2 linked regions of the Homo sapiens genome follow. The protein of the gene in region 2 binds, or shares a complex with, the protein of the main gene of each other region. Each region holds a gene or a part of one and is shown on either strand. Other genes may lie near its edges.

What was found.
Region 1: AIM2 (region 2) and MEFV share a complex: the UniProt entries of both Homo sapiens proteins name them as parts of the AIM2 PANoptosome complex.

Annotation. Positions count from the first base shown.
Region 1 is NC_000016.10:3,249,858-3,253,775, forward strand, and holds part of MEFV (pyrin), read right to left. Parts: intron 1-3,918. UniProt on the Homo sapiens protein: Involved in the regulation of innate immunity and the inflammatory response in response to IFNG/IFN-gamma.
Region 2 is NC_000001.11:159,063,039-159,066,956, forward strand, and holds part of AIM2 (interferon-inducible protein AIM2), read right to left. Parts: intron 3,292-3,918; coding exon 2,872-3,291; intron 637-2,871; coding exon 448-636; intron 1-447. UniProt on the Homo sapiens protein: Sensor component of the AIM2 inflammasome, which mediates inflammasome activation in response to the presence of double-stranded DNA (dsDNA) in the cytosol, leading to subsequent pyroptosis.

The sequences.
Region 1 (3,918 bases), on a different chromosome or scaffold from region 2:
ACACAGCCCTTGCCTGAGATGTGCGAGTTCTCAGTTAGACTCTGCCCACTTCCTAGCTTGTCCTCCCCCGACTTCCATCCAGTGAGGAAGCAAACAGGCCACTGGGCCTGAGAGCTAAGGGCCAGACCTCAGACATTCCTGAGCCTTGGAATTCTTGGGCATTTATCCTAAAGAAAGACCCATGGCCTTGTGCTGTTCCTCCTGCACAGACATAGATCTAGCAGGTGATGCCAAGGAAAGAGACATTCTGACCAGTGTTCCTTTGCCACTTGAACCCATCCCTGGCTGCCCATAACGTGAGTGGAGGCTTCCAGGGGATGGTGACTTGTGTACCTCGCTCCTAGCTGGATCCCAGCCCCTAGCAGAGTACCTGGCAAATGCAAGCATTTGGAAAATGAGTATTGAATGAAGGAATAAATAGACCACTGCTCACATATGAGTTCAATAACCATTAAATGAAAGCAAAGAAGGGGCTGGGTGGTGGCTCATGCCTATAATCCCAGTGCTTTGGGAGGCCAAGGTGGGAGGACTGCTTAAGCTCAGGAGTTTGAGACCAGCCTGGGCAACATGGCAAGAGCCCACCTCTACAAAAAATTAAAAAATTAGCCAGGTGTGGTGGTGCACACCTCTAATCCCAGCTACTTGGGAGGCTGAGACAGGAGGATTGCTTGAACCTAGGAGGTTGATGCTGCACCACTGCACTCCAGCCTGGGCAACAGAGTAAGATGCCATCTTAAAAGAAAAAGCAAAGAAGGGGGGCATTATAGGGCTAAAGACTGGAACTCATCATGAAGACCTAACAGTTATGAATAGCTCTACTCCAAGACTCTAATTGCAACTTCATAAGCAGACATGCCACGAGATACAAGAAGAAATAGAAACACAAGGCCGAGCGCAGTGGCTCACGCCTGTAATCCCAGCACTTTGGGAGGCCGAGGCGGGTGGGTCATGAGGTCAGGAGTTCAAGACCAGCCTGGCCAAGATGGTGAAACCCTGTCTCTACTAAAAATACAAAAATTAGCCGGACGTGGTGGTGGGCACCTGTAATCCCAGCTACTCGGGAGGCTGAGGCAGGAGAATTGCTTGAACCCGGGAGGCGGAGTTTGCAGTGAGCTGAAGTTGCGCCACTGCACTCCAGTCTGGGTGACCAAGAGAGACTCCATCTCAAAAAAAAAAAAAAAAAAAAAAAGAAATAGAAACACACTCAATCCTTTAGCCCCTGCTACCTCCTCCCACCTCACAGTGTCCCAGAAATTCACAGCACATCTGTAAATGAGACTGCTAGTAGTCACCAGAAATTATTCTCCCTCCTTCTCTCGTGATAGAATTAATTGTCCACGTTTCCCTGTTTCCCTGCCTCCCATTGCCCCCCAAATGCCCTGCATTTCTCAGCCTCCTTTGCAGTTAGGTGTGGCTATTTGACAATAATATGACCAAAGGGATGTAAATGGAGGTGTCACAAGCAGCTTCTAGAAACTTCTAGAGCTTTCCCGAGGGATACTATTCCCCTCTGTTCCTCCATCTTGCTGCCTGGCATGAGGACGTCACCTTCTGAGAGCAGAAGCTTGAGGACAAACTTGGTGGGACAGAGCAACAGCAGGACCCCAGGGTCCTGGCCCACGGATCTGCCTGGGACCGCCTGTGTATCATTTATGTGAAGGAGGCACAAACTTCTTTTCTGTTGAGGTTACTGTTATTTGGGTGTTTCTATTATTCACAACCAAACATAATTTTAATGACTACCTCAGCAGTAGATAGTTAGGACTTTAGCCAATAGGCTTTTCTTTCTGCTGAGAGAAAGGCAAATGGTAGAATCTCAACCCCATGATGATGCATTGCTGTGAGGTTATTGTGAGAGGGAGTATTTTTAACCAGTCTTCCCCAGATTTTCTACCTGGTGTCCATAAACCCCTTGGATTCTAAAGATGGTCTTCAGAGTGTCCAAGAACTACCTGAAATTTGATGTGACATTTGTGAAGCTGTGCATATATGCATTTTTCAGGGTCTAAGCCTGCATCAGATTAACGAAGCGGCCCTAGAAGACACCCAGGAATCCCAATGATATAAATACAGTGGGGACCTGGTGCAGTGGTGCACACCTGTAATCCCAGCAGTTTCGGAGGCAAAGATGGGAGGATTGTTTGAGATCAGGAGTTCGAGACCAACCTGGGCAACATAGCAAGACCCCATATCTAAAAAAAAAAAAAAATTAAAAAAAATACAGTAGGGATAAAAGAAAATTAGGGGGGAAATACTTCAGTACTTTTCAGGTCACTATTCCTAAGGATGCTAGGTTTTCCAGATCCCAGGGTCCTTTCTCACTGGAAGACCCAGGGACTTCTGGATTTGAAGACTCATGCAGCATACCACATCCTTTCCCCTCCCAGGTCTCAGGGGTCCCTGGACTCCCAATTCTTTTTTTTTTTTTTTTTTGAGACAGAGTTTTGCTCTTGTCGCCCAGGCTAGAGTGCAGTGGCATGATCTTGGCTCACTGCAACCTCTGCCTCCTCGGTTCAAGCAATTCTCCTGCCTCGAAGCCTTCTGAGTAGCTGGGATTATGGACACCCGCCACCACGCCCAGCAAATTTAGTATTTTTAGTAGAGATGGCGTTTCACCATGTTGGCAGGCTGGTCTCGAACTCCTCACCTCAGGTGATCCGCCCCCATTGGCCTCCCAAAGTGCTGGGATTACAGGTATGAGCCACCGCACCCGGCCTGGACCCCCAATTCTATTTCTCCTCCTTGAGTGCTGTGATTTCTCCTCTCCAGCCAACAATGCATTGGAAAGTGTGTTCCATAGGCTGGGTGTAGTGACTCACACCTGAAATCCTAGCACTTTTAGAGGCTAAGGCGGGGGATCGCTTGAGCCCAAGAGTTCAAAACCAGCCTGGGCAACATAGACAGTCCTCGTAACTACAAAAAATACAAAAAAAAAAAAAAAAATTAACCAGGTGTGGTGGTGAGCACCTATAGTCTCAGCTACTTGGAAGGCTGAGGTGGGAGGATCGCTTGAGCCTAGGAGGTTGAGGCTGCAGTAAACTGTGCTCACACTACTGCACTCCAGCATGGGAGACAGACTGAGACTCTGTCTCAAAAAAAAAAAAAAAAAAAAAAAAGGAAAGTGTGTTTCTGAATGCTGCCCCCACCACGAGCATGGAATTGTCACCTGGATAGCCTCGGTACCCTCTAAACTGGTGGCATTTTTCTTTTACAGTTTTTTTTTAGTCTCTTTACCTATAGGGACAGCTGCTTAAAAAAATCCAGATGGCCTGGAGCCTCCTGATCCCTTGCCAAAAACCAGAGGAAGTTAAGATCAGAGCAAAACCAGTGCAAACTGGAAGAGGTGACTTCCAGTTACCTTAAGATCATTTACACATTGTTATAAGGCTAAAGGTCCCTCCCCTAAAAGAAGATGGCCAGGGTTTTGTGTCCATGCGATGTAGGAAGAAGCATGCTGGGGACAGCGCCTGCACATATGGAACCCTGCCCTGGGCCTGCTTACCTATCTCCCTTCCCCTCCCTGGACTCTAAAATCGCCCTGCCTCCCATCCCTGGCAAGCAGACGCCTGCAGAGGTGAGCTCCCCTTCTCCATTCTTTGGCCACTGATAACACCTGATTGCCTTTTTCAATCGGACATTCTTTCTTTCTTTTTTTTTCCCCCCAAAATGTTTAAGAGACAGGGTCTTGCTCTGTTGCCCAGGCCGGAGTGCAGTGGCACATCCTCAGCTCACTGCAGCCTGGAACTCCCTGGCTCAAGCAATCCTCCTGCCTCAGCTTCCTGAGTGGCTAGAATTACAGGCGTGTGCCACCATACCCAGCTAATTTTTTTTTTAGTTTTGTAGAAGTGGAGTCTGGCTACGTTGCTCAGGCTGGTGTGCAGTGGCATGATCTCAGCTCACTGTAGCCTGGAACTCCGT
Region 2 (3,918 bases):
GGTGTGGTGGAAGGTCAAGAGTAGGGGTTTACATGGACTTAACTGCACTGGACTATGGTAGGTGCAGACGTGGTGGGACTGGCTAGGGAAATGTGTCCTCAAAGTATTTATTGTCTGTCTACTTTCAAAGACATTAGTCAGAATGACTTTTCCGACTCTGGGCAAGCTTTCTGCTTTAGACTTGTAGTATAAATAAGGAGCTCTTTTTTGGGCTCTGTGGGCACAACAATATGCGCCTCTGCCTTGAAAAGCCCATGTTCTCTTAACTGTGTATCTAGAATACATGTTTCCTAAGAGGGAGGTTCCTCAGTTCTGTGAGATGAACGTGTACTAAATATCAATGTCTTCCACTCTATATCCTGTTCAATGGCTCCAGTCCGGCTTTCTGATAGAAAACAAAAAATATCACCCCCTTGGAGAGTTGACTTTGTTCCATGCAGTTCCCACCTTTATGGTGCTATGAACTCCAGATGTCAGCTGTAGTTTTTCTCCATTTTTTGACAGTGTGAAGAATGTAAGTCGAACCTTATCTCCTTCCTTACATTTCATTGTGTCCTCGTTTCTAACCCCCAGTACTTCCATTTTCCCAGTGTTGTCACTTAGGTCAAATAATATGTTTTTCTTCTTTTCTGTTACCTATAAAAGAAAATCAACACCCAGCCTCTGATAATCGGATTAATGAATGCCGCATCAGTCACACATCAGACATGCCAGAAGAAGGCTCTAAAAAGAAATCAGTTGATTCTTGAACAACACAGATTTTACCTGTGCAGGTCCATTTATATGGGAATTTTCCTCTGTCTCTGCCACCCCAAGATGGCAAGACCAACCCTCCTCTTCCTCCTCAGTCTACTTAACATCAAGACAATGAGGATGAAGAACTTTATGATGATCTACTTCCACTTAATGAATAGTTAGTATATTTTCTTTTTTATAATTTTATTAATAACATTTTTCTCTAGCTTACTTTTTAAGAATATAGTATATAATATGTATAACACAAAAATATGTGTTAAGTGACTGCTTATGTTGTCCGTAAGTCTTCTGATCAAGAGTAGGCTATTAAGCAGTTAAGTTTTTGGGGAGTCAAAAATTATATGCAGATTATCAACTGCTCAGGGTCAGAAGCCCTAATCCCTACATTGTTCAAGGGACAACTTGAAAAAATGTTTCTGCTTTGAAACTAGCAGGTATATATCTAATAGATGTTAGCAAGTTCACACAGAGGAGGCAGACGTGTCTTACTTAGAACATGTTGTCTCCTATGCCTATCTTTCCAGTCCTAAATTCCCTTCCTTTAGGAGGAGGCCAGGGTGGCCCATAGAAGCAACAACTGCTGGATAGAGAAGATGGAGCTTCTCCAGGGCCAGCAGCCAGATTAGTCAAGGGAAAAAAGAAGACCCTGGGTTGGAAGAGAGCTATTTATTCTATTTGTTTATTTTTTGAAATGGAGTTTCGCTCTTTCACCCAGGCTGGAGTGCGATGGCGCAATCTTGGCTCACTGCAACCTCCAACGCCCTGGGTTCAAGCGATTCTCTTGCCTCAGCCTCCCGAGTAGCTGGGATTATAGGTGTCCGCCAATACACCCGGCTAATTTTTGTATTTTTACTAGAGACAGGTTTTGCCATGTTGGCCAGGATGATCTGGAACTCCTCAACTCAGGTGATCCATGCGCCTTGGCCTCCCAAAGTGCTAGGATTACAGGCATGAGCTGCCGCGCCCAGCCTGAAGAGAGCTATTTAAAACAAGTCCAGGAGAGACATGAGGTAATGATGCAAGACCCAGCCAAGAGTCTAGTAAGTAATCAAAGACAAGAAACAATTCACAATCAAGTCTAGATCCAAAGGGAACAGGAGGTTGGTCAGTTATTTAGGAGATTGATCGTATTTTAGGTTTAATTTTATGGACTAAATCAGTATATATGAGTGGATAGCTGGCCAGATTGAAAGCTGAAAACTGGGATAAAGAACATGACTTTCCTATCCAAGGTCATTTTACACTTGAGTTTTCCAGGAGGACTGGAGAGTCTTCCTATCAATTCCTTCTGAAACTAACCCAGGGCAGCAGAGGTTATTCTGAGGCTCTGAATGCAGGGGCAGCAGGTTCTCTCTCTATGGTTCTTTAGGTCCTGCCCTAGACCAGAAAAAGTCATCCCACAAGGCTAGTTCCCTGAGGCTCAGAATCATAATAAATACTTTATTATTTCTCACTTCTAATAAGTATCCTGGAGGAGCGCCTCTGCCCCGCGGCCCTGTCTGGGAAGTGAGGAGCGCCTCTGCCCGGCCGCCGTGCAACCTTCCAAGTGTGAAGTGACAGCCTTGTGTGTGATCTTTTCTGTCTTCCCCCAGTTTGCATTTTTGACATTAAAGTTTACTTTTTAATTAAAAAAAAAGTCTCCTCAGGCTAACTCTTTCTTCTGTTTTCTTCATTTAATCACAGTTCTTTAATCCTGCCTTGCGTATTGGTTTTTCAGGTCATTAATCTGGTTTATTACTCAACTACACTTACTTTGCATTCACAACAATAGTCACTTAAAATAAAGATAATCACAACTATAGTCACTTAAAATAAAGATAATATGTACAAAGTACAAAAATAATGCAGAAATAAAAATTATGTGAATGAACTAATTCCTTTTTCAGAGGCTACTGGGGTAAGTTGAAATAGGATCGTGACATTTTTGACAATAAAAACAATTTTTGAGTTTTTGTATGAATTTTGGCATGTTTACTCTGCAGCTCTTTAGAACTTTGTATTTTTTTATTTTGTCTATATAGAAAGACATTAAAACCATTTCCAAAGTTTCTTTAAGATCAGATGGGAAATACGTTATTCTTACTAATCAATATGAAATTAGATATGAAAACTTACCTTCTGGACTACAAACAAACCATTCACAATTGTTCCAAGGGGCTGAGTTTGAAGCGTGTTGATCTTCGGGGTTTCACCAGCTTTTCTGATAATGTTCAGCGGGACATTAACCTTTTGGTCAGATTCAGCATCTAACACACGTGAGGCGCTATTTACCTCTAAGAAACCACTGTGCCGATAATATCTTGCTATTATAATTATTCTCTTTGGAATGAATTTATCTTTCAGCAGTGTATTAAAAACTTTTACAAAGAAGAATTCCTTTTCTGTAGCCACTGTAGCATGAAACATCTCCTGCTTGCCTTCTTGGGTCTCAAACGTGAAGGGCTTCTTTGCTTTCAGTACCATAACTGGCAAACAGCGCTTCTGAAACCCTTCTCTGATAGATTCCTGCTGGGCCACCATCTGTTTCTGTTCAGGCTGAAGACAAGAGAAGAAAGATATCAGCTGTGAGTCAAAAAGGTACTATTGAAAGGACCTTACTTCACCTACAGTGCTAAACCTCAGAAAGCCAGCAGAAGATAGGTGGAATCAAGGGAAGAGATACAGAGGGGATACGAAGAGAGTTGAGGCCTAGAACGATCCAGATAGAACAGAGAGTGCAGAAGGAAGATTTCGACTCCTGTATTCAGATAAGACGGTGTAACACGTTTTGGAGGTAGGATCCCTGAAACCAAATCCTTGCTTTGCCATGTACTATATATAAAGACTTCATCAGATTTCTGAAATACTGCTAAGCCTCGGGGTAAATCTGACAAATCTGATTCCATCTTCTATCAATTCCATTCGGGCATGTGTCCTTGTTTCTCTATCCAATACTGTCCTAAATGTTCATTTTACTCTGGTATAAAAGTGAGGGAGCTCAGTGACCAGCACAGGGCTCCCCAAATTCCTAGGGAGCATTGTACATAACAAAATGCAGATTACATTTAATGTGAGTTAAGGGGGAGACCTAGTTCAGAGATCTTATGAGTGAGTTAAAGGAGAAATTTAAAAGGAGAATTAATACTACATTTATGGATTTACCCTTAAATAATGAATTATGCA